Linked DNA regions of Homo sapiens. The protein of the gene in region 3 purifies or fractionates together with the protein of the main gene of each other region. This does not show direct contact. Each region holds a gene or a part of one and is shown on either strand. Other genes may lie near its edges.

Evidence for each region. The genes of interacting proteins can lie anywhere in the genome.
Region 1: the proteins of SLC37A2 (region 3) and USP8 purify together in Homo sapiens (affinity purification with mass spectrometry; one large-scale study listed by BioGRID and IntAct). This does not show direct contact.
Region 2: the proteins of SLC37A2 (region 3) and EPS8 purify together in Homo sapiens (affinity purification with mass spectrometry; one large-scale study listed by BioGRID and IntAct). This does not show direct contact.
Region 4: the proteins of SLC37A2 (region 3) and TMEM161A purify together in Homo sapiens (affinity purification with mass spectrometry; one large-scale study listed by BioGRID and IntAct). This does not show direct contact.

Annotation. Positions count from the first base shown.
Region 1 is NC_000015.10:50,478,961-50,484,018, reverse strand, and holds part of USP8 (ubiquitin carboxyl-terminal hydrolase 8), read right to left. Parts: intron 2,539-5,058; coding exon 1,954-2,538; intron 1-1,953. UniProt on the Homo sapiens protein: Hydrolase that can remove conjugated ubiquitin from proteins and therefore plays an important regulatory role at the level of protein turnover by preventing degradation. Converts both 'Lys-48' an 'Lys-63'-linked ubiquitin chains.
Region 2 is NC_000012.12:15,619,020-15,623,455, reverse strand, and holds the end of EPS8 (epidermal growth factor receptor kinase substrate 8), read left to right. Parts: intron 1-168; coding exon 169-298; intron 299-2,025; coding exon 2,026-2,139; 3' UTR 2,140-3,322; downstream 3,323-4,436. UniProt on the Homo sapiens protein: Signaling adapter that controls various cellular protrusions by regulating actin cytoskeleton dynamics and architecture. Depending on its association with other signal transducers, can regulate different processes.
Region 3 is NC_000011.10:125,069,012-125,074,069, reverse strand, and holds part of SLC37A2 (glucose-6-phosphate exchanger SLC37A2), read right to left. Parts: intron 1-5,058. UniProt on the Homo sapiens protein: Inorganic phosphate and glucose-6-phosphate antiporter. May transport cytoplasmic glucose-6-phosphate into the lumen of the endoplasmic reticulum and translocate inorganic phosphate into the opposite direction. Independent of a lumenal glucose-6-phosphatase.
Region 4 is NC_000019.10:19,120,865-19,125,922, forward strand, and holds part of TMEM161A (transmembrane protein 161A isoform 1 precursor), read right to left. Parts: intron 956-5,058; coding exon 895-955; intron 805-894; coding exon 661-804; intron 558-660; coding exon 444-557; intron 303-443; coding exon 128-302; intron 1-127. UniProt on the Homo sapiens protein: May play a role in protection against oxidative stress. Overexpression leads to reduced levels of oxidant-induced DNA damage and apoptosis.

The sequences.
Region 1 (5,058 bases), on a different chromosome or scaffold from region 3:
AGTATAAAATGCTGATCATTAATGTATATTCACCATGACCTAATTTGAACATTATTCTTTTATTTAAATACTATTACGATTTTGGTTATCTTGAAAGGAGTTGTGCTTCAAAAAATTTGAAGTATTCAAGAGAAAGAAGAAATTAAGATACAGACCAATAGTAAAAAATGCAAAAATCTATATTCATATCTTCTTATAACATCACAGATTCTTTTTTTTTTTTTGGAGACCGAGTCTCGCTCTGTCACCCAGGCTGGAGTGCAGTGGCACGATCTTGGCTCACTGCAACCTCTGCCTCATGGGTTCAAGTGATTCTCCTGCTTCAGCCTCCCAAGCAGCTGGGACTACAGGCGCCCGCCACCACACCTGGCTAATTTTTTATATTTTTAGTGGAGACAGGGTTTTACCGTGTTAGCCAGGATCATCTTGATCTCCTGACCAAGTGATCCGCTCGTCTAGGCCTCCCAAAGTGCTGGGATTATAGGCGTGGGCCAACGCGCCCGGCCCGTAGATTCTTTTTAAAAACTCATTTTTGTTTTATATCTTATTTTAAAATAACTCTACTAAAAACTTTTTAAAATTAGTGATAATTTTAACAAAATTTATTCTAGAATAAATTACATATTTCTCCTACTTTTAAAAGGAGCACACAAAGAATGCAATCTTAGATGTGTAGGAATATTTGGCACCTATATACTAAATGACTCCACAAATATGAATGATTTAAGTTCTAAAGACTGCATGCCTCTAGTATAGCAAGATGGAAAAGAAGTGGCTTTGGAATCTCACTGTCTATGTGATCCTAGGCAAATACTTAACCTCTAAACTTCAGTTTCACTTGTAAATTAAATACCTTATGGGGTTATCATTAGGGGTAAATAAGACAATGCAGTGAAAATACTTGGCATATAGTAGCTACTCAATGAATAATACTTAAATTGTATCTTGGAGTGCACATGTTTTGCTCCTCCTGTGAATAAAATTAGAGAGTTTTAGTACATGGGCTTCATATCCCCAATTTGGGGTGTTTAGAAGGTTTTTGGATGGAAGCTATCTTTTTTAATAGCAGAGGTTACCAGATAAGTGTTCCCTGGATAAGAGCAGCTTGACTATGAATTAATTTTGGTAACATGCCTGAATTGTGTTTGAGAAGTATAGAAATTGACATTCTGTAAAGATGGTATCCCGCCTTCCATTAGAAGTCATTTCCACACTACTAAAAATGTTTTTTCCATTTATACATATGTAAAAAGGACCATAACTGTTCTTGGTATTATAAACATATACTTGGTGTTCAAAAGGAAAAGGCATTGTTAATGACATAATGAAGAAAAAAAGAAAAGCATAGCATTATTAGAGATTGAAAAAGAATAACAAAAAAAGTCCCCTAAAATTACGGCTATCAATTTTGGGTGTGTAGCCAAGGGCAAAATTAATTGGGTTATTTGCCAATATTATTTAAATAGATAAAGCAAGAAACAAAATGACACCGATCTGACCAAAAAATCACTATATGCAAAGATAAATGTTAGGCCATTTAGATGTCACTGATTTTGGATATATTCTAAACAGATATAAATTCTATCATACAAATATTAGCATCTAGTTTCCCCATACTGAGAAGGAGATTATATTTCACTCTAGTCTTCCCATGATCATACATCAAACATAAAAATGAAGAATGTAGCTATTTATCTCAATTATTTGAAATATATTGCATTTTATAGATGTAATATACAAAAAGCAATTTCATTCCCAACCAATCATTTCATAAATGTATGGCACTGGCCTCAAAGGAGAATAGATGAGCAAATGTGGATAGATCAGTACATTCTATCACCCCTGAAAAGACTATTTGAAATGCCTGCCCTTTTATGGAATGCCACTGGTGTTTTCACATTTTCATATACATTTTCTTTCACTTCGTTGGCAATTTGTACTGTTTCTGCTTACCTTGCCTGAACCTGAATCCCCTGTCACAGATGTATGGGGCACATCTCCTGTTGACTTTTTCTGTATTTCTGGGGTTGGACACCTTTTCCCCCTATCTTCTACAGATTTCTTGGCATCAGAAGTTTCATGTTCACTTTTACTTTGTCTTTTTACTCCTGTTATTTCTTTGCCCCTCTTTGCTGAGGTTTCTTTATCTTCTTTCTTGGCCTGTTCACTTTCTTTCTTCTCCATTTCTTCTTTTGCTTTTTGTTGCTTCTCTGTAATTTCATTTTCTTCAGCTTCTTGTTTCTTTTTGGCTTTTTGTTCTTGTTCTTCCTTCCTCAGTTTCTCTTTCTGTTCCTCTTGCTGCCTTTCCCGAAGTTCTTTTTCTTGTTTGTTTTTTTCCATTAGAAGAGCAGTTTCTGCATGAATACGAGCCTTTTCTTCATCTGTTAACATGAGAGTTGGAGAAAAAACTACTGGCTTGGTGGAACGATCAGGAATAACTTTTCCACTCTGAGGAGATTGTTGCTCATGGTTTGTACTTTCAGATTTTATTCTATGCTCTTCAGGCAATTTGACTGCTGGTTTTTTAGTACGATCAATCTAGAGCAACAAAACCAGAGCAAAACATTTTTGTCAAAAATCAGGAAATAACCTCAGTTCTTGAGATCAAGTTGTGATAAAAGAAGTGTCACTTTGTGGAGACAACATCTATCAGCACATCTATTTGTTAATTACTCAGTGTCAAGATTTCTCATAAAACAGAACTTGAATGGTAGATATTCAAACATCACTGGAACTTACATCCTCTTGATTCAACACTTTCAATTCTTCCTGAGTGTTTTGTATACAAAAGAGTTAAAAATGTCTTTATTCTAAAACATAAAACCTAGACCTGGGCATACTTAGACTTAAGTTCCACTTCCAGGTATCCAAATGCCTACCCAATATTTCCATTTGAGTGTCAACACATGTATCTCAAACCCCATACAGCCAAAACGGATTCACGATTCCCCCCACCCCGACAAACATGGTCCTAATCTCATGGATGTAACCACTCTCACTCTCCCAATAGTTGCACAAATCAAAAACCTGAGTCCCATGATATGTTCTTCCCATATCCTTCTGCACGCTGTTAATTTTCCTCCTATATCTGTCCCTCCATCTCTTCTACCACAGGCTAAGACCATGTCAACCTCCTCTCTCACCAGGACTACAGCATAGCTTTCAACTAGTTGCCCATCTCTTCTCTTGCCCCCGCCCCCCAATCTGTTTCTCCACATTATAGCCAGAGGACTCATTTTAAAACAAATTTGATTTGCTACCCACTATGCTCTCAGTACACCTAAAATCTTTACCATAGTCTGTAATGCCCTGTATGGTCTTACATCTGCCTACCTCTCCAGTCATATGGCTGTGTATACCAGCTATACTTGCCTTAAAAAAAAAATTATTCCAAGATGCCATGCTCCTTCCCAACTTAGGTCTATCAGCTGTTCATCTAGATAATGCCCACATTAGGTCTTGGCTTACACATCTCTCCCTCTGAAAAGACTTCCCTGGTTCCTAGAACTAGCCAAGTCCCCTGATACATGCTCTTATAATACTTTATTCTTCTCTACCGGAATTCTGATCAAATAACTATAATTACTTATTTAAAATTTTTCTTCCCTCCTAGAATATAAGCTCTAAAAGGATAAAGACTGTGCCTGGCACAGTTAGTAACTATGTTACTGAGGGAACAAATGCAATCTTCCCTAAAAACTTTTACATGAGGTAAAATACTAACTAGTTTCCTTCAGGTTGTGTAATAAACTACCTAAGTTCCTGATTTAATGAGTTAAATGTTTATTACCTCAATTTAACAGCATGTTAACACTAGAGAAGTGACCCTAACATCATTTCTTGAGAATACTGTGTACTGAAAGAAAAATAAAAACTTATAAGAACATGTGCCAATAACAATCTACATAGTGTTCTTACAAAACGAATTTATGTTTTTCTACTAGAAAATAAAAGAAGTTGCCAGGCGCAGTGACTCACGCCTGTAATACCAGCACTTTGGGAGGCCGAGCCGGATAGATCACTTGAGGCCAGGAGTTCGAGACCAGCCTGGGCAACATGGCAAAACCCCATCTCTACAAAAAAAATACAAAAATTAGCTGGGCGTGGTGGCATGTGCCTATAATCCCAGCTACTCAGGAGGCTGAGGTGGGAGGATTGCTTGAACCCAGGAAGTCGAGGCTGCAGTGAGCTGTGATCACGCCACTGCACTCCAGCCTGGGTGAGAGAGTGAGACCGTTTTCAAAAAAAAAAGAAAAGAAAAAGAAAACGAGGTTAGTGTAGAAAAAATAATTTTTTTCCTGTTCACTTCTCTTTCTGCCTCTTAAAAAAAATCCTTTGTCTTTTTTTTTGCATGTATTTGAGAATAAAGTAGGAAGAACCACTATGGGGATGAGGTTAACAATAAGAGGTGGAACAGAAACAAAAATAAATGTTGTTTCCATTTACATTTTGGTGGCTTGATCTATTTTTCCCTAATTTTAAAAGTATAGTTATGATCATGTTACTCTCAAGTTTAAAATTCTTTAATGGTTCCTTGTGCCTACAGGACAAAATTCAAATTTGATCCAAGTCTCTCTTGATGACTCTTGTCCATCCTTCTAATCTTATCTACTATCATAACTTCCTCTCTCCAACAGAGACTAGCGCCCACATATGCCAAAACTGTTCACTGGCCCCAGAGCATGCCCTATGCCTTTGGTCATAGAATTTTCTACTTGTTTCTTCTATCCTCCAATCCTACTCTTAAAGCCCAGATAAAATACTGTCTCCTCCATGAAGACGTCCTTGATCTTCTCAGCTAGAATATTCTCCTTGCTCTGTGCTCCAGTGCCTTGTAGAGCAATTATGATATTCTGCCTTATGCTGTGGCTGATTTTATACAGATCTCTCCTTCCAAACATCAGAAGAACCCATCTCTTGTATATACAAACTTTCATGCTGTCTTATTTTTATTTTTATTTTTTTTTGAGACAGAGTCTCACTCTCACCCAGGCTGGAGTGCAGTGGCCTGATCTCGGCTCACTACAACTCTGCTTCCTGGGTTCATGTGATTCTCCT
Region 2 (4,436 bases), on a different chromosome or scaffold from region 3:
GAAACTTGTCATTGCCCTAACTATAAAGACTGTAGTGGCATTTAATAAGGGTTCCAGGGTATGGAACGCTTAGAAAAGAGAAGTTACTAGCAGGAACAGATAATTTTCTCCTTTGTTTGTAGGCAATATTTTTAATGCTCAGTTTCTTTTTCCTTTTTTTTTTTTTAGGACTGTCAATAGTCTTGGAGTATTAAATGGTGCACAACTTTTCTCTCTCAATAAGGATGAACTGAGGACAGTCTGCCCTGAAGGGGCGAGAGTCTATAGCCAAATCACTGTACAAAAAGCTGCATTGGAGGTATGACTTGTCAACCTAAGGTGGTGTTTTTCTGCAAATTGAAAGCTCTGGAAACAACTATTTATGTCCATATTGGCCAATTTCCCTTTCTTAACAGAGCTGAATTAAATTTAACTCTGCTTTTGTAAATTTGTCACTGAGATCATCAATGACAGTTTCCAGAAGGTTAATTTGTTATAAATGCTCATATGATGTGAAGCTTGAGCACATACTTTTGGAAACTTGACAAAAAGCATAATGTTCTCATTTTATATGTATTGACTAATTCTATAGGAAATTTAATTTTGACATAACAATGGAAATTAGCTTCTGAGTGAGTAAGAGCCTTAAGAGGCCAGAATCCTTGCCTATTCTTAATATTTTTTTTTTTTTGGAGATTCTAATAACGTATAGGTTATAAGATTGTAAAACCCTGGCTGTGTGTGTTAGGTCTAGTAATACATCTCAATAATCGGGAAAGATACATTAGGTAGAGATCACTGAAAATAGAGAGCCTGGAAAAGTATTTAATCACAATGGTCTGTATGAAAGCAGGAGAGTCATGTTTTCTAGATTGCTTTATACTTAAGCTTCCAATATCCTATTTTAGACTTAAAATGTGCTATATACGGGTAGTAGTTTCCAACTGTTACATCTCACAGCTCTTAATAGTTTCATGAAAATTATACTTGGACTCAAATGAAAGAATGTAGGCTTTGGCATGAAATTGATCCATAATCATCTCTAGCAGGTATATTCTATAAATTCAACAGTTAAATAATTCAGGGTAAAATCACTTCATGCGTATCACCCCGTAGCCATTCTGAATCAAGAGAAACCATATTTCCCTTGGAGGTTTTCCCTACAACATTGATCTTGAAGGCTCCATATTAAAGTTTGATTTGATTGCTTTCCATATGTTGAATATTAATAAGGATTATATATTTTTCTCAAGCAGTTTTATTACCACTATATTTAATTTTGTTGAGAGTATATAATTACTTCTTCAAGGTATGTTAGAAAATGCCATATTCCTAAAATTCTGAATTCCTTCATCCCACACCTGCCTATCATTATTGTCATTTGCTGTCACCACCCACTTCAGGATGGTCTCTTGCTTCTTGTTCTCTTCCTATTCTCTGCATGGGAACTGAGGCAGAGGCTGACTACCTGAGGTTCTTCATGTTCCTCAGCCACCTTCTACCACCTCACCCTTTCCTTGGATCTAGTTAATCTTTTAGATTATTTGCCTGTGTTGCCAGAGACTTCTGTTGATGGGAAAGGAGAAAAGCCAGCATGGTCGGAGGGTCAGAACTATATGGAGGGGAAACTGGGTGAATTCTGAGCCCACTCTGGCCTGAGTTAAAATCTTCTAAAGGCAGATCAGTATCTTGTTTGAGCCCAAAAGAGTCCTTTGATAATTTACCATGTTATTATGCTTATTGTACACATTTCCTCTTTCTCTCAGCAAACCTAGAGTACTATACATACATTATTGATTTATCTTTATCATGTTCAAATGAAAGGCCTGGTGAGTGAATTGCCTTAACAGACTTTACAAAATGAAAAATTATTAATGTGATATATTAGTGAAGTGCAGAAGCTTCACTTAAAAAGTAGAGCTGTTAGCTTTCCTAAAGAGATACTAGAAGAAAACCACAGTAGAATTTTATCCTGAGCCATTTCATGATATGACCTGCAGCCTGCACAAGTCAGTAACTATCTTGTCTGAACTGTTTATCTTTCAGGATAGCAGTGGCAGCTCCGAGTTACAAGAAATTATGAGAAGACGACAGGAAAAAATCAGTGCTGCCGCTAGTGATTCAGGAGTGGAATCTTTTGATGAAGGAAGCAGTCACTAATTTGTTTGTTTGTATTTAAACTCCATTGTTTTTGGCATTATTCCAACATGCTTTGTTTTAAGAAGCCTTGAAGGGAATGTCAGATTCATTTTTCTTGATGTAATTTATCACCATAAAAAAAAACCCATGCAAACCTGAGTGAGCACAGGATTTGCTTCTAGGCCCATTATTTTTATTAAAACTGAAAAAATTTAAACTGAATTTTTTGACCTTGGAAAATATTTTTCTTACTTTACCAAGGTGAAGTTTCCTTAATTAGACTAATTATTTTATCCCCATCCCAGGGTATAAACAGGAATTGTTTTGATAGTGGTGGAGTTATTCACTGCAACAAAGCAACAATGTTGTCCATGATTCAAAATCTAAGCAGTTTCGATTTTGCCTGTGAATATGGTGTCTGTCATTCAGGGCATAGCTCACTGTAGGCTAGCCTCTGCTTACTTAAGTCTCTTCTCTGACATACTCAATGGAAGAATATTTAGATTTATTTAAAGTTCTTAATGCCAACAGTTTAAAAAAAAATTAAAACATTTGAATGAACTGTAAAGTACAGCCATACCTTGGACATGCAAATATAAATCTATGGAGCATTCTCAAGAGAGTTTGTCATGGCTCTGTTGATTGCAACTCCTTGTATAGCTTGTATTTTGATTTAGTTTATATTCTGCTTATTATGTATACTGTGTTCTTATATATGAGAAAGCACAAATGCGAAAGAGGTCATGTCTTCTCAAAATCTAGCAAAGGAAGTAGTCTGCATTGGTGTGCATTACAGTATTTTGCTTAATGAAAGCCTCAGTTCTGAATGTTGATATGAGTAGTTAAAAGGAAGTGGGGCCATTTTATGTGTTTATCTGTGTCAAGTATTTCTGGTAATAAGAAGCACTTAATTTACACATATTTTAATCCTGTGAAAGATTCCACATAGAGAAAAGAAAGATACCTAACCTTCAACAAATGTTATTTTTGGAAACACAATTTTTGTCATTAAATGTTATATTATTTCACATATATAAAACAGATGTTATGTAAGAATGTTGTATATTTTAACATAAATCATTTAGAGAAATTATCTAGATTCATTAATTTTCATAGTGCCTTTTTCACATGAGTCAGCTGGAAAGTCTGCAATAAACAGTATTTGCTGTCTGTTAATAAATGGTTTCTGTCTCATTAGCAAAAAGGATCTGTGCTAGATCGGCTGAGGATTCGAGTTGAATGCAATGGGAAAAAGTAGAGATCCACATTTTAAAAAAACTATATATTATTCTATTTCTGAGTGGGTAGAGAAACTCTAGAATACTTTTTTCGGTTGTTTTTCTTCTTTTCGCCTCTTGTTTCATCATCTTTTCCTTCTACCATCTAGTCATATTTGGTAATGGTAATGGAACTAATTTACACTGCGCTTACGATTGCTAAATGCTTCCATATAAATGCTTTCCTGGATATTTACAACAACTCTATATGAATTATTACAGATGAGGAGATTTAGCTTCCTAGAAGCTAATTTTCCCCAGATCCTGAAGGATGTGGGAGTTTCTCATCTTCTATCTCTCGGTCTCTCTATAACACTGCCCTTTGGATAAAGTGGAACAAACATGAGCATGATAAAGGTGAATTAGTTTAGATCTTTTACATTTCATAAGGACTGATACATATGTATAATTTAGCCTTTATTGAAAGGGATAAGATGAAAGAAAATAAGATCCAAAAGTTAAGATAACCTGCGTGTAAAATAGCAGACGGATATGAAAAGAATTGGTGTAATTTACATCTTTATGCTATAAGATGCCAAAGGAATGTATCACAGAGGTAGTAATTGCAGAAAGCAGTCACATCAGCTAAGGATGTGGGGACAAAGAGAAGAGGTTCCTGGAATTTAGAATCTTGAGGGAGCAGCACCACAGAATTTGGATCCAGACATCTGAGGGGTTTGGTCACTGGTATCTGAGGATTTGAGGAAAGACCCCACAAAGCTAACAGGGGGACACAGCCTAATCAGTGTTTTTGCCTCAGGTATTCAGAAAAGATTTCAGGAATTGAACAACAGGTCAGAAAATCCATGGCTCTGGGACTTAGACTTTGGAGAAGAGCATGGCAGGTAGCTGGTGCTTGAATCTCTAAGAGGGCACAATGAGGATGCCTCTGGGAGCCTAGGGAATAGAAAACTGGTAAATTGAGCCAACTACTGCTGCTGGGAATCATTTGCTACTTACTGAGTGAAGAACCACTACTGGGGTTGTGTTGGTAGCAACAGAAAGTAAAACAGGAGGGAGAAGCCCCTTGTTCCCTCTCTA
Region 3 (5,058 bases):
TGAAACTGAGCCAAGCAGAGAAGCAGAGCTGGCTGGGAAGGGCAGGGGCCTCAGGTGGCGTGGCGCAGGGCCTCAGGTGCCAAACTGTGGCATTTAGGCTATCTCTGAAGGTGATGGGAAGCCACTGAAGAGAGCGGGAGTTCCCAGGTCGGCAGCTCTGAACCCCAGCCAGCCTAAGCCAGGTGAAGACCCAGGGCTGTGCCCTGTAGGTTTTGGTGGGAAGCGCAGACAGGCTTCCTCACTGAGGCTCAAGGCCAGTTCCCTGGGCCTTTTTCATCCTGCCAGCCACTCCCAGGGACATAGCAGCATCACGGGGGAACCCAGGTGGTGGATGTCAGGGAGTTGATGTCTATAAGAGAAAACAGCAAGGACTTGGGAATCGGGCAAAAGCTGGTTTCATTCCTTACATCTTTTTGCTCATTGGAAAAGCAGAGTCTATCACCTTTCTCAGACCTATTGATGGGTTAGTGAGATGCACCTAACCAGTCTGAAATTGTTCCTGATGCCCAGAGGGCGCTTAGATGACAGCCAGTGTGCTTCCAATGTTCAGACCAGGAAGAAGGACTGGAGGGGTGGAGGCGGCCCACACTGCTCTGTTAGGGGAGCCGAGTAGGGTCAGGGGCTGAACCAAACTCTTCTGGGAAGTGGAGGCTCCGGGCCCTGGATTTACCTGGAAGGTAGAGATGTGGCTGCCAGCCTGTCCCCCTCCACCCCGCCTCCCGCTGTGCATAGCTGGGTCTAGATGAACATAAGGATGCCCTGAAGCTCCTGGAGCTCTGGCCTTCCATGGTGGGCCCTATGGCTTCTTGGGGAGCCTACGGTGGGACACAGGGGAGACTCCAGCCCCGGGGCCCTCCCACCTGCTCCCGTGGGCAGACAGGAAAGTCAGTAGGGGTCCCCACGTGCATCCTGACCTGGTAGGTTCCAAGATTCCAGCCCTGCCCTCCTCCAGGTGGTAGCCTGATGTCCCCGCCAGCTCTGACCCCAACTCCCTGAAATCCACCACCTGGAGTCCCCCATGATGCTGCCAGTAGAAACCCTGACACCCAAGATAGCAGGAGAGTCATGAGTCTTGAGGGTGGCGGGTGGGGGGTCCTCAGCTGTGTTGTGTGACACTAGGCCTGGCACTGGCCTTTTCTGGGACTTCCTTCCTGGCCTCCAGAGGGATGGAGGGATGAGCTCAAAGTCACACCACTCGCTGGGCATGGCATAGTCAGAGCTGGGCCTCCTCTGAGTCTGGTGCTCTATCCATTCCCCATTGTCAGGTGTTCTAAGAGAAAGATCAAGGTGCCGTGGTTCACAGGAGACTGGGAACTTCGGTCAGGTTAAGGGCTAGGCTAGACGGAGGCCAAGACTGCCAAGCTCATGCTAGCTTCAGAAAGGCAGCTGACGCACTCCTTCCATGTTTAGAACCCGCAGGTTTCACTTCTCCTCTCACCAGTCCTTCCCTCGTGAATCAAGAGGTCCCAGAAGAGAAGCAGGGCACAGAATATGCACAGCCAGGCCTTGCCTAGCTGGCCCCAGGGTGGCTGTGACGGGGGGATGGCAGCCCAGGGGCTGGGCCAGGCTGGGCAAGTAGGCCAAGGACCAAAGGATGGAGGGGAAGGCCCCCGGCTGCTCCAGATGGGGCGGCTGTCCCATGACCCTCAAAGACCTTGTTAGCAAGAGATGGCACTTCTCAGAATCCCACCTCCCCCCCACCGGATACTGGTTACTGAATAACCAAGTTAGATAGGGAGGTTGACTAGCTATCTCTTAACTATTAGCTGACAGTCCAACCTACTCTTTCGAAGGAGCCTGATAATAACTTTATTGACCTTGTTGAGACTTTGCACTAGGAATGCTTCTGGGGTAAAAATCAAGAAATGGCATGTCCCAAAGCAGTGACAGATTAGAAACAAACAAACAAAACCCCCAAAAGACCGACTGCCACCACCACTGCAACAGCAAAAAACAAGAAACAGCCCAGCAGAGGGACGCTGCCCCCGAGAGATGTCAGAAACAGCCCCGGTTCCCCAGTGGCTCCCTAGTCACTCCCCAGTCCCAGGCTAGGCTGGCTGTGGCTGCAGGTGACTTTGGCACTTGTCCAGAGAAAATGGATTCAGTAGTCTCTTCTCGGACGTGACTGTTCTGAGACTAAGCAGATCTGAAAAGGATAGAGGGCTGGGCACAGTAAGAACCAAGCTAGGGTCAATGGTGACAGTGCCCACCCCCCCTCCCCCACAAGCCCTCCACCAGCACTGGGAGATACCCTGCTAGGAAAAGGCCAGCCAGGAACAGATACCACAGGTGCAGAGCCCTGAGCCAGGTCTTTAGCACACAAGACAGGACAAGACCCTCTTTGGGAGGCGCAAAGCTCTCCCAGGGCAGCAGCCAGCCCCTCAGGGAATCCTCTGTTTGCTGTCCTTCCTCCAGCTGGGACGTGGGCACATGCTCAGAGAGATCGAGATGACTCGGGGCTTGCCCTGAGAGCCTTCCTAGAGAAAGAAGCCATTGGCCAGGAGCCACGAGGAACTCAGGACATTTGAGAAGAGACTGGTGGCTCAGATGACAGTCTGTCTTAGGAAAGAGGAAAATACAGGATAGATTGTTTTGCTTTGGGAAGAAAGCTGAGTGGGGGACCCTGAATGGTCAGGCAGAATGAAGACAGCCTTCATGCTGCAGCAGGGACTCTGATCAGCAGCCGGAATAACAGGGAGGGTGGGAGTGTTGGTGGGGCTCAGAAGAGGCAGCCAACAGGTTTTAAGTTGGTGTCTCTTCTGAAGAAAGGTTGTGTAAATAGCACTGATGGAAGCGTGTTGATGATGGCAGAGCTGCAGTCCTGCTTAGAGGGGGAGGAGGATGGCCTTCCTTCTCCTGAGCAAGAAGCGTCCAGGGGACAAGACCTGAGCCAGAAGCCAACAGGAGAGCAGTGACACCGCCCCCCCACCCCACACACACACCAACTTAGTGTCTGTTAGTGACTCAGATAGGAGGTCCTGGGCTTCAGGGACTCTACCTCTGGTGTCTGTCCTCAATTCTGCTGTTACTTTGGGACTGTCAACCCTGACCCCAGCTCTCAGTTGATACAGAAGCTTGAATGGAAAAAACAAGGCCTTGGCCAACCATACAGACTATTTCGAAACCTTGCTGCTACCTTCTAGACCAGCCCACAGGGCCTGAGTCAGACAGCCCCACCCGAGGTCAATGAGGTGCACGCCAGTCCACTGTAGGGAGGGAGAGAGGAAACAGCAGGGTGGAAGAGGAAGCCCAAAAAGCAGCTGGGGGAGAAGCTGCTGTCACGAGGGGTGGGGGATGGGACCTCCACAGGCTCACATGCCCCTTCTGGGGGGCCGGAGTAGGGATCATGGGCTGAGACTCCAGGTTCTCCCCAGGAGCCCTCATTTCCTTTTCCAAGCAGCCTCTTCCCATCAAAGCTCATTTTAAACAGCCCTTTCTGCTGCCCTTACCATGCACCTCTTTGCAGTCAACAGGAAAGTAAGATTTGAGAGAGCTAGCCCATAGGACAGGGAAACAGACATCAGACTTCGAGCAAAATTGGCTGAGTCCTAATTTCTGGTTCTGCCACTTAATGTGACCTTGGGCAAGTTGTTGTACGTCTCTAAGCCTCAGTTCGATCTTCCTTTAAATAAGATCATATTCCCCTGCTGCACGAGAGTGTTATAAAGATTAAATGAGATATCCTGGATGTGGAAGTGTCTGGCACACAGCAGATTTTCTCTCAGTATGAATTTGAATGTCTTTCCCCTGCGTCCTCCTCAGAGTGGGCACCAGGATCCGGCAGTGAAAGCCCTTAGCTAACTCCACAGGGCAGAACCATCCATTCTAGCTCAGCTGTGGCCTTTTGCAGCTCACAGGGGAAGATCGAGGTGTGGGAAAAATGGCACCACAGGAGCTCACAGCTCCTGCTCTTCCTGCCTGCCCAATTCACCCTCCTGCCCATTCCTGCTCATCCAGCTGTGGTCACCCTGGTATTTCCTCCCACAGGCTCTTCTTCTGCACGTTCTGGGCCATCCCCCTCAGAGGGCCCCAGGAAATGGGCCCAGCCCCATAAGCACCAGCCACAGTCATCTCCCATGCTGCCAGCTGCCCCCAGACGCACCCACACAGACACTGGTACAAAAGGCAGGAACCAGCCAGGCTCCAGGCTGGGGAACCTCCAGGTGCTCTGTGGCTCTGAAACGCCATGGACAAGCCATTCATTGTCATCCTGACGAGGAAGGCCTAACAGGAGGAGGAGAGCAACATCTTCCTGGACAGAAACTCCGCCATCTCTGACTCTTGCCTGGATGTCTGCAGCTGTCTCCACACACCTGGCGCCACATGACTCCCAGCCTCCTGTCCAGGGGCACCTTTTGTTCCTACCAGCTGGAGCTACATGTTACTACTTCAGAGACAGGGGACAGGCCATGTCTCCACTTGCATGCCTTTGCTGGCTCTGTGACCTCTGCTCAGAACACCTCCAGATCCAAGTCAAAGACTTCCTTCTTCTCCTAATGGAGATGATTCTCTCCCTCCACAGAAATTTATAAGCACCTAGCCAATACCAACTACGCTAGACACTGGGCTAAGTGCTTTAAGCAGCTTCTCATTTAATTTCACCAAAACCCCGTGATATAGGTACATCATTTTTTCCATTTCATAGATAAGGAAATTGAGCCTGGGAGATGTTAAGTAATTTGTCCAAGGCCAAATGGCCATGTAATCTTTTCCCCACCCAACACTATCATTAGGAAGGCAGCGGAAAGACCATGGGCTTACGAGTCAGACTAATCTTGATTCCAACTCCAGCTCAGTCATTTATCAGCTGTGTGGTGCTGGACAGGCTTACATAACTGCTCTGTGCCTCATTACACTCATATGTTCCACAGGGAAGCTAACATTCACCTTGCAGTTCCACAAAAATTACAAATAAACAATGCCTGGCACAAAGTAGTAGGAAAAACAAATAGAATATAGTCAATCATTAGTGTTTACTCAGTGTTTCATATCAGCCTGGCACTGACCTAAGTACCTTACACGTAGTACCTCATTTAAACCTCAAAACACTCGTGTGAT
Region 4 (5,058 bases), on a different chromosome or scaffold from region 3:
TGGGCAGGTAGCAGGGGTGGCTGCAGCAGGAGGCCTTCTGGTTTGGGACGACTCCACGCCCAAAGGACCAGGAACCCCACCCTGAGCCCCAGGTTCCCTCTGGCCTAGGTCATCGGGGCGTCCATACCCTCTGCTGGATTTCACGGGCTTCGATGCGGCCAGCCTCCCTTCGCAGCTGCTCCACCCGGGCCTTGGCCAGGCACAGGTAGGCCTGCAGGTGGGGCCGGGTCACCGCCAGCCGCAGCAGGCACAGCACCACCAGCAACCAGAGGCGCCCAGAGTCGAAGGCAGAATCGGACAGCCTGTGCGGAGAGGGCCGGGGGCAAGGGACTAAGAAGGTCGCCCCCGACCCCCCAGGATCTTCCCCAGGCTCCTCCCTGAATCTCAGAGGCTAGGGCACCCAGGGGAGCCCCAGCTACCTCCTAGCCCCACCCAATACGCACAGGGAGAAACGCGTCTCCCCAAACGGCGGCTGGTGCAGGAAGTCCCGTGCAATGGGCTTTGTCCAGAGCCACAGGATGAACAGGGGAGACAGGAAGCTGGTGTGCAGGAGGAACCTGGGGGGTGAGGGCAGGAGGGAGTGAGGCCTGGGTACCCCCTCTCCTCGAGTCTCTCCCTTAAGCTCCCTAGTCCCCCCACCCACCAAGCGACCCACTTAACTGCAGCATGGGTCTGTCCTCCGACATGGTCAGTGCGTCCCGGTGGGTCTGGGCCAGCCGCAGGCCTGGGAAGGTGAGGAAGGCACCCAGCACAGAGCCCACCACTGCCAGTCCCACGCGGATAGCCAGCTTGGCCACAGGAAGCCTAGGAGAACACCAGGTCACGAGCCTGCCTGGGGGACCCTGGGAGGGTCCCAGCCTGCCCTTGCCTCCCTCCCCCATTCCCAGGACTCACGCCCAGTCCCAGCCCTGCTTCTTCAGAAGTGGCTCTAAGTTCTGGGTCATGCTGGCCAGACCTGGGGACGATAAGAAGAGGACCGAGTAGAGTGAATTCCTAGGGTCTCTAAGGCCACTCTGTTCCCTAACCCCCCATCCCTCAGGCATCCGTTTGCTTCCCAAGTAGGAATGAACAAGGGTCTGCCAGGCCCTGAGCCAGGCACAAGGACAATTTTGTGCTCTAGTTACACAGTACTTTTTACAAGAAACAAGATTGGAGTGGTGGTTCACGCCTGTAATCCCAGCACTTTGGGAGGCTGAGGCAGGCGGATCATCTGAGATCAGGAGTTTCAGACCAGCCTGGCCAATGCAGTGAAACCCCCGTCTCTACTAAAAATACAAAAATTAGCCAGGTGTGGTGGCAGGTGCCTGTAATCCCAGCTACTTGAGAGGCTGAGGCAGGAGAATCGCTTGAACATGGGGAGCGGAGGTTGCAGTGAGCTGAGACCGCACCATTGCACTCCAGCCTTGGGGACAAGAGTGAAACTCAGTCTCAAAGAAAACGAAACAGAATGCACCAGGCAGACACTCCTGATTGGGCTGGGAACATTCAGGGGTATCTGTTGAGCCTGAGCTCCCTAGGTTATAGAAGGAATCTAGAGGGGGATGAAGGACTCCTGCAGGAGAAAACCAAAGTCCTCCTGGAGGAAGGAATCCTCAATTCAGGACCCAAGATTTTTCAAAAATTAAGAGCAGGGCTGGGTGCAGTGGCTTGCACCTGTAAGTCTCAGCACTTTGGGAGGCCAAGGCGGGTGGATCGTTTGAGCTCACAAGTTTGAGACCAGCCTGGGCAACATGGCAAAACCCCCATCTCTACAAAAAATACAAAACCAGGGGTGGTGGTGCACGCCTATAGTCCCAGCTACTGTGAAGGCTGAGGTGGGAAGGATGGGTTGAGCCCAGGATGTGGAAGTTGCAGTGAGCTGAGATCATGCCACTGCACTCCAGCACAGAGCAAGACCTTGTCAAAAAAAAAAAAAAAAAGGAGCAAATTCATATGAGCTCACAGGCAAAATCACCAAATGCATAAGGAAACAAATCACCATAAAGGAGAGTTAACAGAAAAACAACAGTCAAGTTTAGGCCTCAAAGACTTCAGAAATTGGTGCTGTCAATTATGTGTCAAATGACTAAGGAAATGAAAGCTGTAATCACAGAACAAGTGACATGAGAATTCCTTCAGATGACTGGGTAGAGTTGCAAAGGAACCAAATTAAACTCTTCCAAAGGAAAACTGTAAGTATTGAAATAATAGGTTGTTAAACAGCACATTAGGAACAGCCAAAGGAGGAAGTGATGAACTGGAAGACAGATCTGAAGAAATCACTCAGATTCCAACTCAGAAAAACAAGTAGGTGAGAAATATGAAGAGAGGCTAAGAGATAAGGAAGACAGAACAGAGAGCCCAACGCAAATCAAATCAGAGCCCCAGAGGGAGGGAAGAGAAGGAATGAAGAATAAAAGGAATTACTGGAAGAGAATGGTTGAGAAGTTTGCAGAATGAAAGACAGACACAAAGTATATCAAACCATGTAAATAAAAAGAAATCCATACCTAGACATAATGGAGTGAAACTGCAGAACACCAAAAACAAAAAAATTACAAAGCAGCCAGGGAGTTAAGACAGATCACCTACAAAGGAACAACAATTAGGCTGACAGCCAATGTCAACTGCAACAACAGAAAAGGAACAAATAGAAAGCAAAAAAGTAAGATGGTAGAAACAAAGTCAAATATGTCAGTAATCACAATAAATGTAAGTAGACTAAACTTTAAAGTTAAATGACAAAGACTGTCAGACTACATTGAAAATATCCAGCTACATGTTTTTTAAAGGATGACATACCTTGACATAAAGTCACTGGAAGACTGAAAGTAAAGGGATGTTAAAAAGATACAGCAAATACTAATCAAAAGAAAGCAAGCTAGAAAGGCTATACTACTACCAGCCAAACTAGACTAAGAAGTAGTATTAGAATAGGCCAGGCGCGGTGGCTCACACCTGTAATCTCAGCACTTTGGGAGGCCAAGACGGGCAGATCACAAAGTCAGGAGTTCGAGACGAGCCTGGCCAACATGGTGAAACCCTGGCTCTACTAAAAATCCAAAAAATAGCTGGGCATGGTGGCGGGTAATACCAGCTACTTGGGAGGCTGAGGCAGGAGAATCGCTTGAACCCAGGAGGTGGAGGTTGCAGTGAGCCGAGATTGCGCCACTGCACTCCAGCCTGGCCAACGAGAGCAAAACTCTGTCTCAAAAAAAAAAAAAGTAGTATTAGAAGACAGAAGGGTTCCATACATCATGATAAAATGGCTGATTCACCAGGAAAATGTAACAGTTCTAAATCTGTGAATAGAACTAATCTGTGAATTGTGAATAGGCTGCAAAATATATAAAGAAAACACTGACAGAATTGATAGGGAAATTGAGAGCTCTCTTGTCCCAGAGGGAGATTAACTTCTGCTGACTGATAAGTCACAGACAAAAGGTTAGGCAAGATGGAGATTTGAATTTATTAAACTCATAGAGCCAGGGAATATGTCCTTCAATTAGAACATGTGAAAAAAGGCAAAACAACAAAAACAGAATATGTCCTTCAAGAAAACAAGGAATAGTCACAAAATGTGATCACATTCCAGGCCATAGGGCAAATCTTACCAAATTTTAAAGAAATTATTTCAAATAGACCATCTGTGCAATTGAGCTAGAAATAAATATGTATTTTTTAAAGATCTATGTTTGAAAAATTTAAAAATATTTAATAATCCATAGGTCAAAGCATAGCAAGACCCCATCTCTACAGAAATCAGAAGGGAAATGTTAAAACACCCCAAACAGAATAATAAAAAATATCAGTCAAAACTTGGGTAAACTGCCAGGTGTGATGGCTCACACCTGTAATCCCAGCACTTTGAGAGGCCGAGGTGGGTGGATCACCTGAGGTTAGGAGTTTGAGACCAGCCTGGCCAACATGGTAAAACCCCGTCTCTACTAAAAATACAAAAATTAGCCAGGCGTGGTGGCGTGCACCTGTAATCCCAGCTACTCAGGAGGCTGAGGCAGAAGAATTGCTTGAACCCAGGAGGCAGAGGTTGTAGTGAGCTGAGATTGCACAGTTGCACTCCAGCCTGGGTGACAAGAGCAAAACTCCATCTCAAAACAAAAACAAAAACAAAAAAAAACTTAGGTGAACAAAAGTGAGACCTGGTAAAATATATATAGCATTAAATGCTATATATGCTATAAAATTAGAAAAGATTGAAAATTTATGAGCCAAGTAGCTAACTGAGAAATTGGAAACAAGAAAAGGAGGTACGCCAGTACTGTTCTCAAATCCAGAGGTCCTAGCCACACCAAAGGGGAAGGATCAGACAGAACAAAAGAAAACCAAAAAGAATCTGCAATTCAATAAAAATATAATTGTTTAGCAAGGTTAGTCCGTGGAGACACTCAAATTTGACCCCTATATGATAACACAAAAATTAATGTCACTGTCCATCAGCAACAGTGAGTAGTTTAGGAGCTTATATGAAATGTAAAAGTTGAAATATTTTATTTATTGATTTTTAAGATGGAGTCTTGCTCTTGTCGCCCAGGCTAGAGTGCAATGGCGTGATTTCGGCTCACTGCAACCTCTGCCTCCGGGGTTCAAGTGATTCTCCTGCCTCAGCCTCCCGAGTAGCTGGGATTACAGGTGCATGCCACCTTGCCCAGCTTTTTTTTTTTTTTTTTTTTTAGACGGAGTCTCGCTCTGTTGCCCAGGCTGGAGTGCAGTGGCGCGATCTTGGCTCACTGCAAGCTCCACCTCCCGGGTTCACGCCATTCTCCTGCCTCAGCCTCCCCAGTAGCTGGGACTACAGGCGCCTGCCACCACGCCTGGCTAATTTTTTGTATTTTTAGTAGAGACGGGGTTTCACGGTGTTAGCCAGGATGGTCTCGATCTGCCGACCTCGTGATGTGCCCATCTCGGCCTCCCAAAGTGCTGGGATTACAGGCATGAGCCACCACCCCTGGCCAGTCATTCTATATTTTCTTCTAAAATATTTCAGCCAGGCGTGGTGGCAAGCGCCTGTAATCCCAGCACTTTGGGAGGCTGAGGCAGGTGGATTGCCTGAGGTCTGGA